Linked DNA regions of Homo sapiens. The protein of the gene in region 3 interacts with the protein of the main gene of each other region in a biochemical or structural test. Each region holds a gene or a part of one and is shown on either strand. Other genes may lie near its edges.

Region 1 (7,582 bases), on a different chromosome or scaffold from region 3:
AGGATAAGGCTGTCGGAGAGGAGGGAGTAGGATTTGGGCATCAGAGCCCCCCAGCTGCTGCTCGTGGGGGTGAGGACACCAGGCCCCTGACTTTGCTCTGGTCTCTCTCCCAGCTCCCTGCCCAGGCCCACAGCCATGGCCATGGCCCAGAAACTCAGCCACCTCCTGCCGAGTCTGCGGCAGGTCATCCAGGAGCCTCAGCTATCTCTGCAGCCAGAGCCTGTCTTCACGGTGGATCGAGCTGAGGTGCCGCCGCTCTTCTGGAAGCCGTACATCTATGCGGGCTACCGGCCGCTGCATCAGACCTGGCGCTTCTATTTCCGCACGCTGTTCCAGCAGCACAACGAGGCCGTGAATGTCTGGACCCACCTGCTGGCGGCCCTGGTACTGCTGCTGCGGCTGGCCCTCTTTGTGGAGACCGTGGACTTCTGGGGAGACCCACACGCCCTGCCCCTCTTCATCATTGTCCTTGCCTCTTTCACCTACCTCTCCTTCAGTGCCTTGGCTCACCTCCTGCAGGCCAAGTCTGAGTTCTGGCATTACAGCTTCTTCTTCCTGGACTATGTGGGGGTGGCCGTGTACCAGTTTGGCAGTGCCTTGGCACACTTCTACTATGCTATCGAGCCCGCCTGGCATGCCCAGGTGCAGGCTGTTTTTCTGCCCATGGCTGCCTTTCTCGCCTGGCTTTCCTGCATTGGCTCCTGCTATAACAAGTACATCCAGAAACCAGGCCTGCTGGGCCGCACATGCCAGGAGGTGCCCTCCGTCCTGGCCTACGCACTGGACATTAGTCCTGTGGTGCATCGTATCTTCGTGTCCTCCGACCCCACCACGGATGATCCAGCTCTTCTCTACCACAAGTGCCAGGTGGTCTTCTTTCTGCTGGCTGCTGCCTTCTTCTCTACCTTCATGCCCGAGCGCTGGTTCCCTGGCAGCTGCCATGTCTTCGGGCAGGGCCACCAACTTTTCCACATCTTCTTGGTGCTGTGCACGCTGGCTCAGCTGGAGGCTGTGGCACTGGACTATGAGGCCCGACGGCCCATCTATGAGCCTCTGCACACGCACTGGCCTCACAACTTTTCTGGCCTCTTCCTGCTCACGGTGGGCAGCAGCATCCTCACTGCATTCCTCCTGAGCCAGCTGGTACAGCGCAAACTTGATCAGAAGACCAAGTGAAGGGGGATGGCATCTGGTAGGGAGGGAGGTATAGTTGGGGGACAGGGGTCTGGGTTTGGCTCCAGGTGGGAACAAGGCCTGGTAAAGTTGTTTGTGTCTGGCCCACAGTGACTCTCTGTGCACGACTCAACTGCCAAGGGCATCACTGGCCAATTCTTGGATTTAGGGATTGGCTAGGAGTTGCTGGGGTCCACTCCTGGGCCTGCCCCAGCTCCTTGCCCAGGGAGAGGGAAAGAGTTAACGGTGTGGGCCACTCCAGCTTGCCCTTCCACTGCCACTCACTGGGGTGAGGCTGGGGGTCAGCTTGGTGAGGATTGGGGCTTCTAGATTGTCTAGGCAGGAGGTGAAACTTAGGCCAGAGTCAGATTTGAGCTGAGCCAGGGGAGGCCTTGGCAACCTACTTCTACTCAGATTTCATTGCTGGATGCGGAAGGGGTAGGCCCAAAATATATACAGGATCTTACTGTCCCTTGAAGCCCAGCCACAAGTGTTGGAGCTGCAGAGAGACCCCAAAGGTAGTAGATTGTGCCAGATACAAATGGGTCCCATCCAGTGCTTCATACTCCTTCAGTCACTATCCCAGACAGTGAGCCCCAGATCTCCTAGCTCTGGCTTCTGTGTCCCACACGGCCTGTTCCCAGCTTCTCTCCTGGTTCCCTTGTTACGGATTCATTTATCCATTCAGTGTTTCCTGGGCCTCTGCTCAGAGGCAGGTCACCACTGGGCCCTGTGGATCAATGCAAGATGACAAAGGCTTTTTTTTTTTTTTTTTTTTTTTTTTTTTTTGAGGAGTTTCGCTCTTGTTGGCTAGGCTGGAGTAAAATGGTGCGATCTCGGCTCACTGCACCTCCGCCTCCCAGGTTCAAGCGATTTTCCTGCCTCAGCCTCCCGAGTAGCTGGGGTTACAGGCATGCACCACCATGCCTGGCTAATTTTCTGTATTTTTAGTAGAGACGGGGTTTCTCCATGTTGGTCAGGCTGGTCTTGAACTCCTGACCTCAGGTGATCTGCCCGTCTCGGCCTCCCAAAGTGCTGGGATTACCGGCATGAGCCACTGCGCCTGGCCGACAAAGGCTTTGATATCAGAATGAACTGTCAAGGGAGGTGCTGGAGAGGGATTAACCTGTGCTGCCTGGGACCCTCAGGGTCTTAGGTTGGGGAGTGTGAATAGGAGTTTGCAGATGGAGAATAGGAAGGGCATTCCAGGCAGAGGGAAACCTGTGCAGAGACCAAGAGGTGTGGAAGGAAAAGTGGGGTTGGGGCTGGGTGGTCTGGATTATGGCCTGGATGCAATAAAGTACTGTGACAGTAGCCACCTCTTTGTTTTTTGTCTCCTGTTTCCGGGAGGGGCCCCTGCTCACATTACTGGAGGTTTTCCGGAGGAAGCTGGGGCCCCTGGGAGTGGACACAGGGTGCAGGGAGCAGTTCTTGTTTTATCTTTGCTGGGGGATGGGGTTGGGGCCTTATATACCATATCTATATATACAAAATTTGTTTGGCAAGGGAGTGGGCGGCAGTTTTATTACTAAAGTTTTATAAGTAGTTAAAATAATGTGTTTAAAATATGATAATCCCACTTTATGATCTGACAAAGACTTTTTTTGTTTGGTTTTTCCTTCAATTAAGGAGGGTTTTTTTGTTTTGTTTTTAGTGGAGGGGGCAGGGGCGTGCACACTCCACCACACATATTGAGCCTCGTCGCATGCGCACCGAAGAAGTATGTTAACTTTTATAATATTGCTTTTTCCATAGTACACAGCAATATATATACAATGAAGGAAAATTGGGAAGATAAGAAAACCCAAATTAATTAGAAATATCACTTCACTGCTGAAATATCATGGGGGACCTTATGAAATACACACACACACACACACACACACACACACACACACACACATAAAATATGTGTATATAAATAAATATTTTGATATAGGCCAGGCATGGTGACTCACGCTTGTAATCCCAGCACTTTGGGAGGCTGAGGCAGGCATATCACCTGAGGGCAGGAAGTTGAGACCAGTCTGGCCAACATGGCGAAAACCCATCTCTACTAAAAATACAAAAATTAGCCAGGCGTGGTGGCACACACCTGTAGTCCCAGCTACTTGGGAGGCTGAGGTGGCAGGATCGCTTGAGCCCAAGAGGTTGAGGCTGCAGTGAGCTGAGACTGTGCCACTGTACCCGAGCCTGGGTGACAAAGCGAGATGGCTCTGTCCACCATGAAGACAGGCTCTGGCTGCAGAGATGGTTGAGGTTCCTGGCTGACCTGCTGCAGACTGGGCAAGAGGTGGCTGAGCTTCTATCCTCCCTCCACCAAAAAAAAAAAATTACAAAATTTTTGGCCGGGCGCGGTGGCTCATGCCTGTAATCCCAGCACTTTGGGAGGCTGAGGCAGGCGTATCACGAGGTCAGGAGTTCGAGACCAGCCTGGCCAATGGTGAAACCCCGTCTCTACTAAAAATACAAAAATTAGCTGGGTGTGGTGGCGTGCGCCTGTACTTCCAGCTACTAGGGAGGCTGAGACAGAAGAACCGCTTGAACCCAGGAGGCGGGGCTGCAGTGAGCCGAGATAGCGCCACTGCACTCCAGCCTGGGCGACAGTGAGACTCCGTCTCAAAAAAAAATTTTTTTTACATATACAATATGTAAACATTACGTATAATGTACATATATTCCATCTATGGAGATTGTGGTTAGGGACGGAAGGATGGGTGGGGGTGCCAACATTTTTGCATTTCCAAGGGGTTTTCTGAATTCACAAAGTACTTTCACAACCTCATTTGATCCTCTTTAAAATCCAAGGCACAGTAAACGGTGAAAGCAGGACTGAAATCTAGTTCCTGACCCCAAATTTTAACCTCTTCAAAATCCTCTCCCATGTGGCTTCGTAGTTACGCTTACATTAAAAAAAAAAAATTACCAAAGTTGTTCGCACACTCGAGTGTCTGGTAACCACTTAGGTCGAGGACCCCTGGTCTGGAGTCGACGGGCCTGATCTCGGCTCAGCCACTTCCTTCTGGGGGTGATCGCGAAGATTCAGCGATGACACGAACAAATTCCTAAGCCCGGGAAATACTGTAAGAAATTTTCAATACAGCAAAAAGAAAATGTACATTTCTGAGGCTGTCGAGAACCGTTCACACAGCAGCTTCCGAATCCGCTCTTGAAAGAGCGGATCAGAAAGAACACGCACTCCTCCGCGCAGGGAAATATGCCGCACGCACTCAAGGGACCGGCCGCGAAAGTTAGTGCGTGGGCGGGGCACAGCGAAGGGGGCCAGGGCCTTGCCGGGGCGGGGCTGGCGCCCGGGGCGGTCGCGACGTAGCCCCGCCCCCAGCGTTGGCGCGAGATCCGAACGTCGGCGGCCGCGGTTCTGGCGTTCCCTGAGGCGCCGGGAGCCTGCGCCGGCGTCCTGCCGGCTTCGTCTCCTCAGCGGCCATGAGGCGGACAGGCCCCGAGGAGGAGGCCTGCGGCGTGTGGCTGGACGCGGCGGCGCTGAAGAGGCGGAAAGTGCAGGTGGGACGCTGGGGGATGAGAGGGCGTTGGGAACCAGGTAGGGCCTGGAGGCGTAAGACGGGAGGAGTTTGGGGGACACCTGGAGATGATGAAAGCGAAGTCGGGGACAGAGAAGGGAACAGCGTTGGGGATTCACAGGCGAGAGGGATTGTGGTCTGAAGAAGGTTGAAAAACGGGGCTTGGGGAGGATGGGAGGGACGGAAGGAAAGAGCGTGCTGTTGGGGGGTCTGGAGGAGCGGTGCGCAGGGAGGGGCGGCGAAGGTTCAGGTGTGGGAGAGGCGGAGGGAAAGTTCGCTCGGAGCAGTTGAACTGACCAGGCTCCCTAGGAGGCCACAGTCCCTGCGAGACGTCCTAGTAGAGGCTGGAGCATTGGGAGATGGATGCGAATGCAAATTGGGGAAATTCTCACCCCGGGGTCTGTTTCCACCCAATTTGCCAAGTTGCAGGCCAACTACCTGCCCAGAACCGGTAACTTTGAGGGGAAAAGTAGAAGCTATGGGAAGGGGAGCTGGCCTCCTATGTACTGAGCAGTCACTGGGTGCCGGATACTGCATTAGATACTGAATATGCGTTATATGTGTCGTCATTCTTGCTGGGAATGAGGAAACTGAGGTTCAGTAACTAACCTAGGCCCGCCTAACTAGAAGGAGCTGGAAATCACATTCAGGTCTGTCACCTAGGCAAGATGCTCTTCAGTCACTGTAAAGAAACAAAAGTGCGACATAATAATCATTCATGTTTATTGAGCATTTTATGCTGGTGCTAAGTGTTTTAGGTATGTTACCTTGTTTGGTACAATTCTATATGGTAGATAGTGTAATGATACCCATTTTACATACGGAAAACAGGCTCAAAACAGACACTAGGGGCAAGATTCTTGCTCTCAGGTTGCTCACAGTCTTATAGGGAAGAAAAGAGGTGTATAAATAATAACAACAATACCTAACCTTTATTGAGTGCTTTCTATGTGTCAGGCATTTTGCCGAGACTTTATACACTTTATCAATGGCAGGTACTCACCAAAATTCAGTAAAGTAGATTTTGTCATTATCCTGGTTTTATAGATAAGAAATTTGATCATTTTATTATTATTATTTATTATTATTATTTTTTGAGATGGAGTCTTGCTCTGTCGCCCAGGCTGGAGTGCAGTGACACAATCTCAGTTCCCTGCAAGCCCCACCTCCGGGGTTCACGCCATTCTCCTGCCTCAGCCTCCTGAGTAGCTGGGACTACAGGCGGCCACCACCACGCCCGGCTAATTTTTTGTATTTTTAGTAGAGACAGGTTTTCACCGTGTTAGCCAGGATGGTCTCGCTCTCCTGACCTCGTGATCTGCCCGCCTCAGCCTCCCAGAGTGCTGGGATTACAGGCGTGAGCCACTGCGCCCGGCATATTATTATTATTGTTATTTTTGAGATGGAGTTTCACTCTTGTTGCTCGTGCTGGAGTGCAGTGGCGCGATCTAAGCTCACTGCAACCTCTGCCTCCCGGGTTCAAGCGATTCTTCCGCCTCAGCCTCCCGAGTAGCTGGGACTACAGGCGCCCGCCACTACGCTCGGCTGATTTTTGTATTTTTAGTAGAGACAGGGTTTCACTATGTTGGCCAGGCTGGTCTTGAACTCCTGACCTCAAGTGATCCGCCCGTCTCGGCCTCCCAAAGTGCTGAGATTACAGGCTTGAGCTACCGTGCCTGGCCGATTGTTTTATTTTTTCAAAAATTATCAAAATGGCCGGGTGCGGTGGCTCACGCCTGTAATCCTAGTACTTTGGGAGGCCGAGGCGGGCGGATCACCTGAGGTCAGGAGTTCGAGACCGGCCTGGCCAACATGGTGAAACCCCGTCTCTCCTATAAAAAATACAAAAATTTGCTGGGCGTGGTGGCAGGTACCTGTAATCCCAGCTACTCGGGAGGCTGAGACAGGAGAATTGCTTGAACCCAGGAGGTGGAGGTTGCAGTGAGCCGAGATCGTGCCACTGCACTCCAGCCTGGGTGACAGAAGACTCAGTCTCAAAAAAAAAAAAAAAAAAATCAAAATGTGCAATAGCTATTTATTACTCCTTGAATTAGGAATAAGCCATTTGTACCCTTTGAATACATTCTTGAATGACATGGGATGCGTGGGAAACTTGTATACCACTTTGATTTGTTAGTTAATTTTGGAGACAGGCCTCAGTCCGTCACCCAGGCTAGAGTGCGGTGGCGTAATCACGACTACCTACAGCCTCAACGCCCCCGGGCTCCAGGTGATCCTCTTGCCTCATCCTCCCGAGTAGCTGGGACTACAGGCATAGTGCCACAAAGCCCAGCTCATTTTTTGTATTTTTTTTTTTTGTAGAGACGGGGTTTCGCTGTGTTACCTAGGCTGGTCTTGAACTCCTGAGCTCAAGTGATCTGCCCACCGTGGCTTCTCAAAGTGCTGGGATTACAGGTGTGAGCCACTGCACCCAGCCACCAGTTTAATTTAGAAAGAGAACAGAAATAGAATTAGGAAGAGTTCAGGAGAGCGAGAAAGGGAATATTCCACAGGGAAGAGGAGAGCCAATATTTGTCTCTCTGTCTATAATTCTGTTTTGTTGTTGTTGTTGTTGTTGTTGTTTTCCGAAATGGAGTCTTGCTCTTGTTGCCCGGGCTGGAGTGCAGTGGTGCGATCTCAGCTCACTGCAACCTCCACCTCCTGGGTTCAAGCAGTTCCCCTGCCTCAGTCTCCAGAGTAGCTGGGATTACAGGCATGCACCACCTTGCCCAGGTGAATTTGTATTTTTAGTAGAGACGGGGTTTCTCCATGTTGGTTAGGCTGGTCTTGAACTCCCAACCTGAGGTGATCCACCTGCCTCGGCCTCCTGGGATTACAGGCGTGAGCCACTACGCCCAGCCTAATCTTGT
Region 2 (7,158 bases), 1.2 Mb from region 3:
CGGCAAGTGTTTCCTCTGCAGTATTAGATGTGGAAGGTGAATGCTTTATGCTGTTTGCATGACTACATAAATTCCTATTCATTCCTATTCGTTTTCTACCAATAAAATTGAGTTCTACTGCCCTGCCATTTTGCTTTTAATGCTAAATCATGAAATTCCAGAGCTTGACCTTAAAAAGCAGCAAGTTTTCATATTTAACATAAAGAGTCTCAGAAAGAGATAAAGGAGATGTTTGCTCATCGGGAGGCTCCCCCAGGGAGAGAGACCTTTCTGCATTATACAACTTGTTCCAAAAATTCTGATTTCATGGGGTGTTCAATTGATAACATTCATTAGAATATAAAACCTGTTTTTCTGTGCACTGTAGAGACTTTTGTGGCTATTCCTGGTTATTACCAACTTGTTCTGTTCACTGTTTTCGGAAGACTAATTTGAACAAAGGCTTCTAGTAAAACTGCCAAGACTTTAAAAGTTGTTACAAGTTGTGAAACTGTCCTTCAAAGAGCAACTTTTACCTCTGACTGGTTGCCTTTCTTGATAATGTGTTGCCCTGGCAATACCGTTGAAATGGCCACCTCTACATTTCTGCAACCATATATGCCCTTGCAAATATTTTAGGTTTTGTGAGTCATGTGGTCTATGTTGCATTTATTCAACTCTGCCCTTGTAGCACCAAAGCAGCCAGTTAGCAAATGGGCATGGCTGTGTTCCAATACAACTTTATTTATGTACACTGAAATTTGAATTTTATATAGCTTTCACATGTCATAAAATATTATTATTCTTTTGATTTTTCAACCATTTAAAAATATAAAAACCATTCTTATCTTGGTTTTTTTTTTTTTGAGTACTCCATCTAGAAATCTCTTTCCCCAGATATTTGTGTGGCTAACTTCCTTACCTCCTTCTAGGCTTTCCTTACACTTCACTGTCTCAATGAGGCCCAACCTGACCATCTTGTCTAAAACTGCAACACCCATTATATCCCCACCGCTATTTGTTGCCCCCCTTACCTTGTTATAATTTTCCTATAGTACTTAGAACCTTCTGAATAGTAAATAATGTATTTATTTATTATTGTACTGTTTGTCTTCCCTTGCCCAATGATAAGCTCCCTGAGGTCAGGGTTGTTGTGTTTAAGCTCTCAGATGACTCCAAAATGCCTACAAGATTGCCTGGCATGTAATTGACACTCTAAACACTTTACTGAACAATTCAACAGATGAATTAATAGCCTGTCAAACCTATGATCAACCATTAGATTGGAGTTCAGGTCATTTGATAATAAAAGTTGATTTCCAGATCCTTCCACCAAAAAGACACATGCATTCTCATGTTCATTGCAGCACTGTTCACAATAGCAAAGACGTGGAATCAACCTAGATGCCCATCAGAGGCTGACTGGATAAAGAAAATATGGTACATATACCCCATGGAATACTATGCAGCCATAAAAAGAACAAATATTATGTCCAAATTTGCAGCAATATGGATGCAGCTGGAGGCCGTTATCCTAAGCAAATTAACACAGGAACAGACAACCAAATACCACAGGTTCTCACTTATAAGTGGGAGCTAAACACTGGGTACTTATGAAAACACACACACACAAAAGTTGGTTTCCTTTTCTTGAAGTATACAGAGGGCTTGGTCTTCAGAAATGGAATTATGTAAGATTCACTTACTGTTGGACACTCCATTCAGAATAGGTCAAAGAACTCCTTCAAATTCAGAGAAAAAAAAAGATAACTGGGTTTTAACATAAAAAATGGATTAATATTTATTTTATACTTCTTTCCCAAAGTTTGCTTTATCCCCTGCTCAAGTATCCCCTGACACTTTAGCATTCTGCATCATCTGAATCTTCCTCCAACCTCCCCACTCCTGGTGGTGGCCGGGGCTGATGACTAGGGACAGTCTTAAGTTGCTGACAATGGGGACCCTGAAGTGGAAAGACTAGGCCAGGAGCAAACAACTTCATTTTTTGCCTTGAAAGGTCAATTTCAGAAAACAAATGGTAAGAGATGTTTTTCCTTATTTTTTTAAAGAAATTCATGGTCTGCAATTGTATTTTTCCCCCTTTTTAATTTATTATTTATATGTAAGTATTTATTATTTTCCCTTCCATGATTGGTTCATTTTTTCATTTTTTGGTTAGTATTTCATTAATTATACAACTAGCATGCACTACAATATGAGATTATAGCCATATCTTTGATCAAATTTTGTTGGAAATGAGACACTCTTGAACTGATTTTCTTGATTCACTCTATAAGCACCTTAATTGAAAAATACAGATTATCTTACAGTGCCCCCTTAAAACTAAAGCTGTATTCTAGCCTCTGTACTTCTTTTTATTATTATTATTTTTGAGATGGGGTCTTACATGTTGCACAGGTTGGTGTGATCATGGCTCACTGCAGCCTCAACCTTGCAGGCTCAAGTGATCCTCCCACCTCAGCCTCCTGAGTAGCTGGGTCCACAGGCACACACGAGCATGCCAGGCTAATTTTTCTTTCTTCTTTTTTTTTTTTTTTTAGTTTTAATAGAGACAAAGTCTCACTATGTTGCCTAGGCTGGTCTCAAACTCCTGGGCTTGAACTATCCTCCCACCTCAGCCTCCCAAAGTGCTGGGACTACAGGCATGAGCTTCTGCACCTGGCCTGTACTTCTTTGTAGTACATTTTATATTTCTTGTAATTCACTTACTCTTTCTAACTCCAGATTATAAGTATTTATTTACACATCTATATTTGTCATTATACTTAAACTTCCTGAAAATAGAGACTGTAGTTTACTCATTTGTATGCTCCTCAGATCCTAAGTGTTTAATTAAAATCTTAATTAATGAAATGAAATGAAACGTACATAGTTGGCTTACCCCCAAGAATTTCAATAGCTCCCCTTAGCTTGCCATGAGAGGCTTTTCCTTATCAGAGCCCTGCCTTTGTCTATAGTCTTATCAGCTGTCATTCCCTCTCACCCTCCAGCCCCTATAAGCTCTAGTCCCTCTGGGCCATGCTGTTGCTCATTTCTTGCCTTTATACATCCTCTTCCCTCAAACTAGGTTACCCTTTTGACTGCATGGTGAATGCCTCACCATCTTCAAGCCTTAGTTTATACTTATCTGTTTATTGTTTCCCTCATTAGCCTTTTAAACTCCATGAAAATAGGGGCCTGGTCTGTCTTGTTCACTGCTCTCTCTCCACTGTCTGAAAAGCAAGTAGAGACTGGATCAGGAAAGATCTTAAATACAATAAGGAGTTTTGATTATTTCTAGGGGGTAACCAGGAACCACTAAAACATAAGCAGAGAAAGTTATGTACAGGTTTTTGCTTTAGAAAAATCTCTCTCATCGCTGTATGGAGGAATGGTTTGGAGAACGCAGGACTGGCCCTAAGAAATCAATCAGATAATTAGAGTAAGCAAAAGTGATGAGGATCTGATCTGTGGCTGTATCAGTGGGGTCCGAAAGGAGGTGAGGGATTTGAGAGTTAGGAGAGACAGAATGGCAGGAATTGGTGACCTACTGGATGCTGTGACCGAGGGTGAGGGGGAGTGAGGGACGATCTCGGCTTCAGATTTCACTCTGGCTGAGGATATCTGGAACGATCGCATCGTATTAACAATTGTATGTTTACCTGTGGATCACTCCCAATTAGTCTGAAAGCATCTTACTATAGGGACCTTGCTTTGTAGTCTTTGTATTACCAGTGTTAGAAGAGCACCTGTTATGTAGGAGGAGTAATAAAATGAATGAATGCACTCAAAACACTAAACAGTAATTCTGTAATCCAACGGGAGGTACAGCGAATACCAAAAGCCTACATATACTATTCTCTGCATGCTATAGCAAGAAAGAAAGGAAAGTGGCTTCCCGGTGGTTTTCTGCCTATTGTACAACCAGGAAGCTGACAATAAAGTTTATTTGAGCGTCGACGTGCGCCGACGTGGCCCCGCCTCCCCAGCCGGAGCCGCGATTGGTGGGCATTTGCCGGCGGCCACCGCTTTTAAGCCACGATTGGCGAAGGCCGCCGTCATTTCGGAGCGACTCAGCGCCTGCCCGCCCTCTCGCCGCGTCGCCGGTGCCTGCGCCTCCCGCTCCACCTCGCTTCTTCTCTCCCGGCCGAGGCCCGGGGGACCAGAGCGAGAAGCGGGGACCATGTTCCGACGCAAGTTGACGGCTCTCGACTACCACAACCCCGCCGGCTTCAACTGCAAAGGTGAGGCGGCGGCCTCAGCCCGGCCGCGTGTCCCTGACCTGGGCGGAGGTCCCAGCCTCAGTGCCCGCACCCCACCTCCCCGTCGGGACCCTCGGCGGCCTGGTTTCCGCCGGCAGCCTCCGGGCCCCTCTCCTCTGGGTCGCCACGTACCTCGGCTCTTCGCCGCCCCTTCCCGCCTTTAAAGCCCTCTCACCTACTCCTGTCTCGGCATGTTACTTTCTGCACTTGCTTAACTCCAAGCATCACGTAACTACCTTCTCTGTACATAAAAGGGAGAGCATTCGTCTTTCTCACTCACTATTCAACTCCATGGTTCCCTGGGTAATTAGGCGATACCTTGAGCACCTGCTAATTATGGGCCAGCGCGGTGCTGGATTCTGAGGAAGGTGCTGAGTAACTTGAAGACTAGTTCACTGCCTGCCAGGAGCTAAAGGGACGAGGGGTGGAAGCAATCAGAACCCACTGAGCAGTTTGAGACAGTACACAATGAAATCAGGACCGATCACAGTGGGAGGGTAAGCGCGTGTAGTAACGGGCTAGTTGTGTTATGTGGTGTTGCAAAAAAGTTAATAGCAGATGAGTGGGAAGGTTGAATTGTGAATACAAAGGTATTTGGGATTTTACAGCATTAGAATTTTAAAAAGTAATAACGTTGCTACTCACTGTAACTAAACTGCTACCCACCACTACTCGTTTCCTTTGTATAGTTGTGGCCTGTGATAGACTGGTAAGTTTGAAAGTGATCAAGTATAACTTGTGATACTCAGACCACTGTGTAATTCTCAAGACCTTATAATGGAAGCTTGAATTTGACTCACAAATTGAAAATAATTTCTAAGCAGGATGACAGTGTTTTGTTGATCGCCTGTAGAAGCATATCAAATTATAATCTATTGTTTTTCTACTTTAACAAAAAAGTATCAGTGACAATAGAGCCTTGTTCTGGATTGGAATCTTTGAGTCTCAATGTTCTTATCTGTAAAATGGGATATTACCTACCTCAAAAGAGGTATGGGGAGGATTAAACGAAACAATTATGCACTTAATGTGCAGTTAACATTCCATGACAACAGTTGTCACAGTGTCTTTTTTGTCATTTAATTTCTTTTACTTATTATTTTGTTGTATATTTTACTTTATTACTTTGCTATAAATTTAACCTTGCCCTCCTTCCCCTTTCTGTCCGCAAAGGAACTGGAATATTAATATGTAACACTTAAATAGCAAAACTATGTGCCAGGCACTGTTTTTATCCGTATTTATTTTATTTAAGAAACTTCTTAAATAAAACAACTTCTTTTAATCTTCATAACTCTATGAGGTAAGTTCTATTAGCACCCTCATTTTGTAGCTGAAGAGTCTGAGGCACAGAAAATGTGGGTGATTATCCCAAGTTCACACAACCAGTAAGTATCTGGACCCAGGATTTGAACAGATCATTGTTAATCTGTACTTTCAACTCCAGAATCTGTACTTTCAACTCCCTCTTTTGGTTCAATTAATTTAGTATTTTGAAGTTAAGAAAATTCCACAAGAACATATATCTGAACATATACCTGAGAAGGAGGTATTTTATGTAGTGCTTCTAGTTATTTATGTGATATTTTTTATTGCAGATGAAACAGAATTTAGAAACTTCATCGTTTGGCTTGAAGACCAGAAAATCAGGCACTACAAGATTGAAGACAGAGGGAATTTAAGAAACATCCACAGCAGCGACTGGCCCAAGTTCTTTGAAAAGGTAATGAATTAGGAAGTAAAGTAAAAATACAGAGAGTTTGTCTGAAAAATCATGAAGATGAGCTTAAAATTACTTTCTTCTTTTAAGAAAAAAATGATAATGATCAGTGTTAGGAAAGCTGGATTTCAGGGATTTTGCTTTTTTCTTAGATGTGTCTTTTGCTTTTAGAGCAAATTATTTTATGTCTTCCTACCAAGCTTTCAGTATTAGGTAGAAATAGTTTTCTCTAGAAACATGAAGTTTCTTAAATAAATAATGATGTAAATATTTCGCTTTCCCTTTATGGCCCAAATCAGAATTTTTGTTAAACACAGTACTATTTCTTATATTAAAAGAAGACATTGGCTAGGTGTGATGGCTAACACCTATAATGCCAGCACTTTGGGAGGCTGAGGTGGCAGATCATTTGAGCTCAGGAGTTCTGACAGCAGCCTGGGCAACATGATGAAACCCTGTCTCTACAAGAAAATAGAAAGTTATCTGGGTGTGCTGGCCTGTGTCTGTAGTGTCAGCTAATTGGGAGGCTGAGGTTCTCCAGCCTGGGCGACAGAGTGACACCTTGTCTCAAAAAAAGACATTATTGAGATGCTTGAAAACCAAGACTGTCGTGTTTATGCTTATATTTAATGTAAACAGATATCCCTTGTTGTATGCTAGGGAAATAGTCCTTAAATGATCTCTGGTATATCATATTTTTGTGCCTTGAATCATTTTCCCATTGATTTAGTTTTAGTAACACTTTTGCATAAAAAAGAATTCTCAGATTAGAATAAAAATGCTTTTAGTGTCATTTCTTACATTAAACATTTTCATCAGTTATATTTGATGAGTGAGATATTTTTCTTGAAAAAGGCTAAGTTTTTCATTTGCGAGAGCAGTGTGATTAGGCACTTTCTCCCTAGAATCAGTGATTTTATAAATTAGGGATTGTATAAATTACATCATTGTTATTAACCTTTCCGTGTCTCAATTTTTTCATCAATAAGTGAGGGTAACAATGATACCTATCTCATAAGTGTGGCTTTGTTTTTAATGAGTAATTGTTCACAGAAGTCCCTGGCGCATAGCAAGTGTGATAAGCTTATTACTGCCAATGCCTCTATACTACTACTATTAATACTACTGTATTCTTTTCCTTTGCTCTTAGAAAATATTTTTAAAATTTTCAGTGGACTTCTTAAAACTTTGAAATAT
Region 3 (6,924 bases):
GTTTTGTTTGAGACAGGTTCTCACTCTGTCACCAGGCTAAAGTGCAGTGGTGTAATCGTTGTTCACTGCAGCCTTGACCTCCTGGGCTCAATCGATGCTCCTATGTCAGTCTCCTGAGAAGTTGGGACCAGAGGCACGTGCTACCCAGCCTGGCTAATAAAAAAAGAGGAGTAGAGAAGGGGGGTCTCACTGTGTTGCCCAGGCTGGTCTTGAACTCCTGAGCTCAAGCCATCCACCCACCTTAGCCCCCAGAAATGTTGGGATTACAGGTGTGAGCCACCATGCCCAGCCTGATGTTTATTTTGAACATTGTGTGACTTTCAGGACAGTATTAGGCACAGGGTAGGCAATCAATGCTTACTTTAAAAAAATAAATTGTATGGAATCCTGGTTTCCTCTTCTTTCATTTTCTTCATAAGGAAAATGAATAGAGAATCCTAATTTCTAATAGGTGTCCCCCAGGGGCAAAAGTGTAAATCAGTTTGCCTTCTGTCACCTTCCCTTCCCTTTCCTATACTTTTCCTCTTTCTTCCTGGGTTCTTAACCACCAACATTTTGCTGCTGGAACTCTTAAGTCCCTGACTTGTATGTCTGGAACTCAAATTTCTCCCTTTTTCCTTTCCTCATTCATTTTCCTTAGGGCCTTGGGGAGATCATTGATGTCCCTTTCTTTCACCGAGTGAGTTCCTGGGCCAAACTATAACTGATCATCTACTTTAACAATCTGGCTGTCTTTGACACAGCTCTGCAACTTGCCTGAAAACTGTCCTGCTGAGTTCAAATGGTCACAGAAATAAGAAAGATATCGATTAAAGAAGTTTAGAAGGAGCCAGGAGTTGCTACATGAGTGACAGGCTGTTTGACTATTCTGTGAATAAAAAATAGTTTATACCCAACTGTGAGTTGGGAGAGGGTAGACTATGTTTGGTTAGAGCCTTTTTTTGGCTAAGAAAAAAAAAAATAACTTTTCAGGTTCCAGGAAATTTACAAAGCCTGACTTTTTCTCTCTCTTTTTCTCTCTCTCTCTCATTTGTCGTCTTGACTCTAAACTGATAATTTCAAAATTACTTCAAGAAGAAACAAAGAGTAGGCCAGGCGTGGTGGCTCACGCCTGTAATCCCAGCACTTTGGGAGGCCGAGGCAGGATCACTTGAGGTCAGGAATTCAAGACCAGCTTGACCAACATGGTGAAACCTTGTCTCTACTAAAAATTCAAAAATTAGCCAGATGTGGTTGTGCACATCTGTAATCCCAGCTACTTGGGAGGATGAGTCAGAAGAATCGCTTGAACGCAGGAGGCCAGGAGGTGGAGGTTTCAGTGAGACAAGATTGCACCACTGCACTCCAGCCTGGGCGACACAGTAAGACTCCATCTCAAAAAATAAATAAATAAATAAATAAAAAGAAAGAAAAGAAACAAAGAGTAACTTTCTCTTCCCTGGATTATTCTTTAGTTAACGTTTTAGAGCTTTAACCATCTGAGAAAGCCAGTTCCGTACTGTGAAATATGGCAGAAAACCCTTCAAAAACTTCACGTACAAATACTTCAAGGATCCTAGGTCCTTGAACAAGGTTCTTTGTAAAGTGAGAGTAAAAATCAGAGTCAGATAAGCTGCAACAGATAAGAGTGAAGTTTTGTTTGTAAAGGGTGATAACTCTGAATAAATATTTACATTTCTTCTTTTCTCTCTTATATTGGTTATAATGTAGAACTGGAGCCTGGTTGCTACTTCTGCTGTTATTTTGTGTTTAACAGAGAAAAGATCAAGTAATGGGCTCTAAAGGAAGTCTCTGCTTTTTTTTCCCATGACTCCAGTTTGGACTAAGACTAACCATGTGCTCAGTGCAAACCAAACTGCAGGCCCATTGTGTTAAATAAATCATCTTTCTTGGTAGAGTTGCTCTTGCCAACCCACACCACGCGGTAACCATGCTCCATGCTTTCCCTCCTTTGTAGCAAGGCTGGAGGTGATCCCAGTTCCCAGTCCCAGGGCTAACTCCACCCCACTTACTCCTCTCAAGAAAGCGCATCTTGTGTTTTTCAAATTACACAACCCCCAGCAATTCTGATCTTCCTGCACAGGGAGTGAATGCCACTTCCAATATCCCCTGACCCCCAGGAATCACTGTTTTAAACTAATGATCAATATCATCCTTAAGGATTCTTGCAGGTTAAAAAGCGATGCTTGGAGAGGTAACCAGTAGGATGAGGCTTCCATGGCAGAGATTAGGTGAAACAAGAAAGACACCTCTTCATTCTTACCTTCCAAGACTGTTGGCTGTTTTAGTGCCCAGTGAGCATTATTGTCTGTCTTACAAGATGACCTCTATGTAAGTATTCTGGTAACAGGTTAGCTATCCTCTTAATGAACTGCGTGTGTGTGTGTGTGTGTTGTATCATATTACTGGATGACTGAACAACCATGCATACAGTGTATGAGTGTGTGTTTGTGTGTGTATGTGTACTTATTCAAGACTGTTTAAAAAGGAGAGAGGAGCATAAATCTCTCTTATTCTGCAGGCACGCTTATATACCGTGTTGAAAGAAGAGAGCCTGGGCTTTTGAATAAGACTGAGATGTTTAAAATTTTTAAAAAAATTTTTTGAGGTAACTGTAAATTCGCTTGAAGTTGTAAGGAATAATAGAGAGATTCCCTATAGACGCTTCACTTAATTTTTCTCAATGGTAACATTTTGCATAACTGTAGAACAATATTACAATCAGTAAATGGACATTAGTGTAGTCCAAATGTCTTATTCAAATTTCATGAGTTTCACGTGCTCTCATTTGTGAGTGTATATTCAGTTCTATGCAATTTTGCCACATATGTGATCTGCTTTTGAATCTCAGTTCTGTGGAGTTCCTGCTGTGTGATCCTGAGGAAGCTCTTTGACTTCTGGGAGATCCATTTTCCTCATCTGCAAAATAATGTCTGCCTCCTAAGAGTGATGTGAGAATTAGATAAGATAATTTCTGTCGAGTTTCTAGCGCACTGGATTCTCAAGGAATGCTGGTTTCCTCTTGTCTGTTGCTTGCTTTCTCGGTAGAAAAGGAATCACCAGTTTCCTGCTAAAATAACCAGACTTGTGGGTTGTAATCCATCAGGCGGATCCTTCAAGGGCAACACATTTAACCCTGCAGCTCAAAAAGAACCATGGCCTGGACTTGGGATCCTATTTGACTGCAATGAGATCAGAAGTGTAGGGATGGGGGAGTGAGAACGCAGACTCTGGGGTAGTAGGTAGGAGGCGATTAATATCGAGCAACTGTTGGGCTGGGAACCACCAACTCCAAGGAGTTTTCGTCCTGTGTGGCTTGCGACCGAGGGTTAGCTTCACCCGGAGAAGGCTGCACAGGGGCGGGAGCCTGTGAGGACGTGGTGGGCAGGTGCGGAAGCCAGTGTAGACCCGGCAGGAGGGTCGCGCTCGCTCTACAGGGTTCCGAGTCACTTCTACAGCCCTTCTGCCTCCTGAACACCCTTTCCAATGTTGATGGCCAATCGACACCCGAGGGCTGGGAAATCACCCCCTTAAAGTCCCGCTTGCTGAAGGCGGGGGCCCTTCCTCTGCGCGAAGACGCTGCGGCCCGAGTGTCCGCGGTGCGGGTGAGTGTAGGCGTGTTGGGAAAGAAAGGGAGGCGGACAGGCAAGGGGCGAGGGTGGCAGCGCCAGCCCCAGCTCGGTGGCGACCTCGGGGCGCCAGCCTCCTACACCCGCACCCGGAGCCCCGGCGTTTCTAACTTCAGATCTCGGAGGCGGGCGCTCGGAGCGGGAGGGCGCGTCTGCGAGGGCTCAGGCGGCGCCGCCCGCTCCTCCCTCCGCTGCCTGAGCCGCGCGGGCCGCAGAGGAGGAGCCGCGCCGGGGCCGGCGTCGCCCTGACTCCTCCTCCCCGCGCGGGCCCGGCCCTTCCTCCCCGGCGTCCAGAGCTCCGGGTGGCCGCGGCCGAGCCGGGAGCCGAGCGCGCTGGGCGCGGCCGTCCCGCTGCCGCCGCCAAGCCCGGAGTGCGCCAGCGGCCATGGTTCCCGCGGCGGCGCCGGGCGCCTGAGCCCCGGGACGCAGTAAGTGGCGCAACCCCGGGGACCCGGACCCACGGCCTGGGGGTGCACGGAGGCCTCGCGCTGCCCCCGCGCCGTCGGCGAGGCCCTGAGAGCCCGGAGCGAACTGGGCACCGGATCACTCGGGGGCTTCCCATTTGGGGTCCGGGGCCAGCGGGGCGCAATCCCTGCGGGCCGGGAGGAAGCAGCGGCCGGGCGGGAGGACGAGGCGGGGACGGGGCTGCTTCGGAGGCGGGAGGAGGGGCCGGTCCCGGAGGCGCGGGCTGCGCGGGCGGGGGCGGGCCGGCGGGGGCGGGGAGGATGCGCGCTGCAGCCCGCGGCCCCCGAGAGCCGCGCTTTTGTAAGAGCTGGCCCCTTACATATGGAAATGACGCTCACGCGGGTCCCCATTCGCGTCCTTTTGAAGGACGCCCGCCCGGAACCGCTGCGCCGGCTGCGAAGTATTGTCCCGTTTCTCCAGCCCTAACAAAGCGTCCTCCTTCGCTTTGCAGAGCGCTGGAGGCGGGCTGCCGGCTGTGCGGGCGCTCCGGAGAGACCGACAGAAGGTAGGCGAGGGCGGCGGGGCCGGGGGAGCGCGCTGCCTGCCCACACAATGGGCTGTCTGAGGTTTCTGGTAGTGGCGATGGGCAGGCGAGTTGAGGACGCATCGCAGGTGGCCAGGGACTTGGGAGGCGCGCTTGTCCTGCGGCCGCACCTCCGCTTCCCCGCGCGGCAGCACCGCTGGGTTTGGGCACTTCCAGTACCCCCGACGCCCCGGCCGCCTGCCCGGAGCTGAAAGCCGCTTCTGTGCTTTGACCGAGAGCAGGCTTGAGTCCCCGAGGGAGCAGAAGGGGTGGTGGTTCCGTTGGCATGTGCCGCCCGTACAGCCTTGTGATTGAGACGCTGCAGAGGAAACTGCATGGGGAAATCCGAGGTGTTAGCCTGGGCTGTCTGAGTAGCGGAGAGCTGCTTGGAGCCCGGAAAGTGGAGATTTTTGGAGGTGTGCGGGGTCGATGCGCGTAAACAGTTTCCCAGTATAATGCCCAGGAGAAGGGGAAAGAACAAAATGACATTTGGTTATTGCCTAAAAGGTGTGGCATGGAGGTATGGAGTGTCGGGGAAGGAAGCTTCCAGCGGCTAGGCTTCTGTAGCTACCGAAGCGGCCCCTGACAGAAGGACACTAGGTGATGGGAACAGTCACTGCTTCCAGCTCTCGCTGCGAAGTTAAAAGAGATAGAGACGGAAAGAGGCAATTTCCCTAACCCCAGCCCTGACAACCCGAGGTGAAGGCACCAACAAAATGGGAGCTGGAAAGACTGCCCTACCATATATCATGTTTCCAGACAACTTGGATATTATGAGATCTGCTTTCTGCTCCTAACTAGGACAGATCCTCTCCTGGTGTTGAGGACTTCTAAGATGGGCTTGCCATACAGCTCAACTCCTGAATTTATTACATCGAAACAGATTGCGTAGTTGTCTTTTGTGACTGACATGGTAGCTTTGTAGGATGAGAATCCTGATAAAGTCCATCCTGACACATGAGGGAAGCCCCTGGAACCACGACGTTTCTCAGTTAGGTCCCCGTAAACACCATAACATACACACATGTTTGCATGATTCCGGAGGCTTGATGATCTAACAAGGAAAATTCCTTTTTTCTGTCAGTTTAATTTTACCTTGAGTCTTCTCTCGTGGTGAGCATATTATATAGGTGGCTGACCTGGAATATTGGTGGCTCTTGCTCCGGAGTTGAAGGGAGCTGAGGATTTCCAGAGTGTGTATAGGAGGAACATTACAGGCTGGCTGAAAAACGAGTTTGTGTGTTGTGGTCTCTTCAGCTATTGTCAGTGTCCTTTGGGAGGTGATGTGAACTGCCCGGGAATTTGTTTGCAGATTTGTTTATTTTCCCTGTTCTCTGGTGATTCTTTAGAGGGAAGCATTCTGCAGAGTGGGGAAAAGGTAGGATGAATGTTCCACAGGGTTGGACATCGGCAAAGTTATTACCAATACAGGGAAAGGCTTCACAGGGGGCAATAGAGAGGAAGCCATCATACAGTCTGCATTAAAATGTCAAGGATCAGTCATTTTAATAGGCACTTGCTCAGAATGGCGTGGGGTTCTTTTTTCTTATTTCTTTTTCATTTTAGATGTGTAATGACCCTTAATATCAAAAGATGTTAACTGTCACAGAGGGGGAGAATAGGGCTCCAGTGAATTCTGAACAGCCAATCTTAATGTAATAGGCAGTATTCTTATCATGAGTCAAATGTTCAAATAAATTGTTTTAAATGTCACTGCAAATGACTTTCTAAACTAACATTTCAACTATCTTGATGCTTCCATTTTATGTTGATAATGAAAATGCATTTTATCAGTCTTACATTGATAAAGGGTGGGCAAGCTTAGCCAGAGCATTTTAGAAGGATTTAAACAGCGTGAAGCCTTTTTAGAAGGCTTATTTTTATAGATGCCAATTCATTTGTAAGCCAATAAATTATCTGGTTTGAATTCTAGCTATTGAACTTGCATCTGTTGGGCAGGGGCTTATGGAGAGACTTAGTGAAGCTTGCAAAAAGATTTTTATCCTATTTATGAATAAAATAGAATTTTGAAAAGATTATGAGATTCTGAAAGTGAGCATCCTTGTTTGAAATTAGGACACTTCTTTATTGCAATTTAAGTCAGCAATTAACCATTTATTCAAGCTTTTGGATGGAAAAATTACAAAGCATCTATCTATACCCTAATTCTCACTTTAAAAACAAAGTTGGGAAAATATTGTTCATAGACGTGAGAAGAGAAGATCACCTTCACTTACACCTCAGGGTACCATACTCATAGCCTCAGGCATCCTAAATTAATGTGAGTCAATATGGCTTAAGAAGTGG

What was found.
Region 1: the proteins of NIN (region 3) and AUNIP form a complex in vitro, tested with the Homo sapiens proteins (one study listed by BioGRID).
Region 2: the proteins of NIN (region 3) and RTRAF form a complex in vitro, tested with the Homo sapiens proteins (one study listed by BioGRID and IntAct).

Annotation. Positions count from the first base shown.
Region 1 is NC_000001.11:25,856,393-25,863,974, reverse strand, and holds the start of AUNIP (aurora kinase A- and ninein-interacting protein), read left to right. Parts: upstream 1-4,517; 5' UTR 4,518-4,617; coding exon 4,618-4,695; intron 4,696-7,582. Other genes in the region: PAQR7 (membrane progestin receptor alpha), read left to right, coding at 136-1,176. UniProt on the Homo sapiens protein: DNA-binding protein that accumulates at DNA double-strand breaks (DSBs) following DNA damage and promotes DNA resection and homologous recombination.
Region 2 is NC_000014.9:51,985,478-51,992,635, forward strand, and holds the start of RTRAF (RNA transcription, translation and transport factor protein), read left to right. Parts: upstream 1-4,068; 5' UTR 4,069-4,162; coding exon 4,163-4,223; intron 4,224-5,041; exon of another isoform or gene 5,042-5,107; intron 5,108-5,839; coding exon 5,840-5,964; intron 5,965-7,158. UniProt on the Homo sapiens protein: RNA-binding protein involved in modulation of mRNA transcription by Polymerase II. Component of the tRNA-splicing ligase complex and is required for tRNA ligation.
Region 3 is NC_000014.9:50,828,139-50,835,062, reverse strand, and holds the start of NIN (ninein), read left to right. Parts: upstream 1-3,900; 5' UTR 3,901-4,057; intron 4,058-4,545; 5' UTR 4,546-4,599; intron 4,600-6,924. UniProt on the Homo sapiens protein: Centrosomal protein required in the positioning and anchorage of the microtubule minus-end in epithelial cells. May also act as a centrosome maturation factor.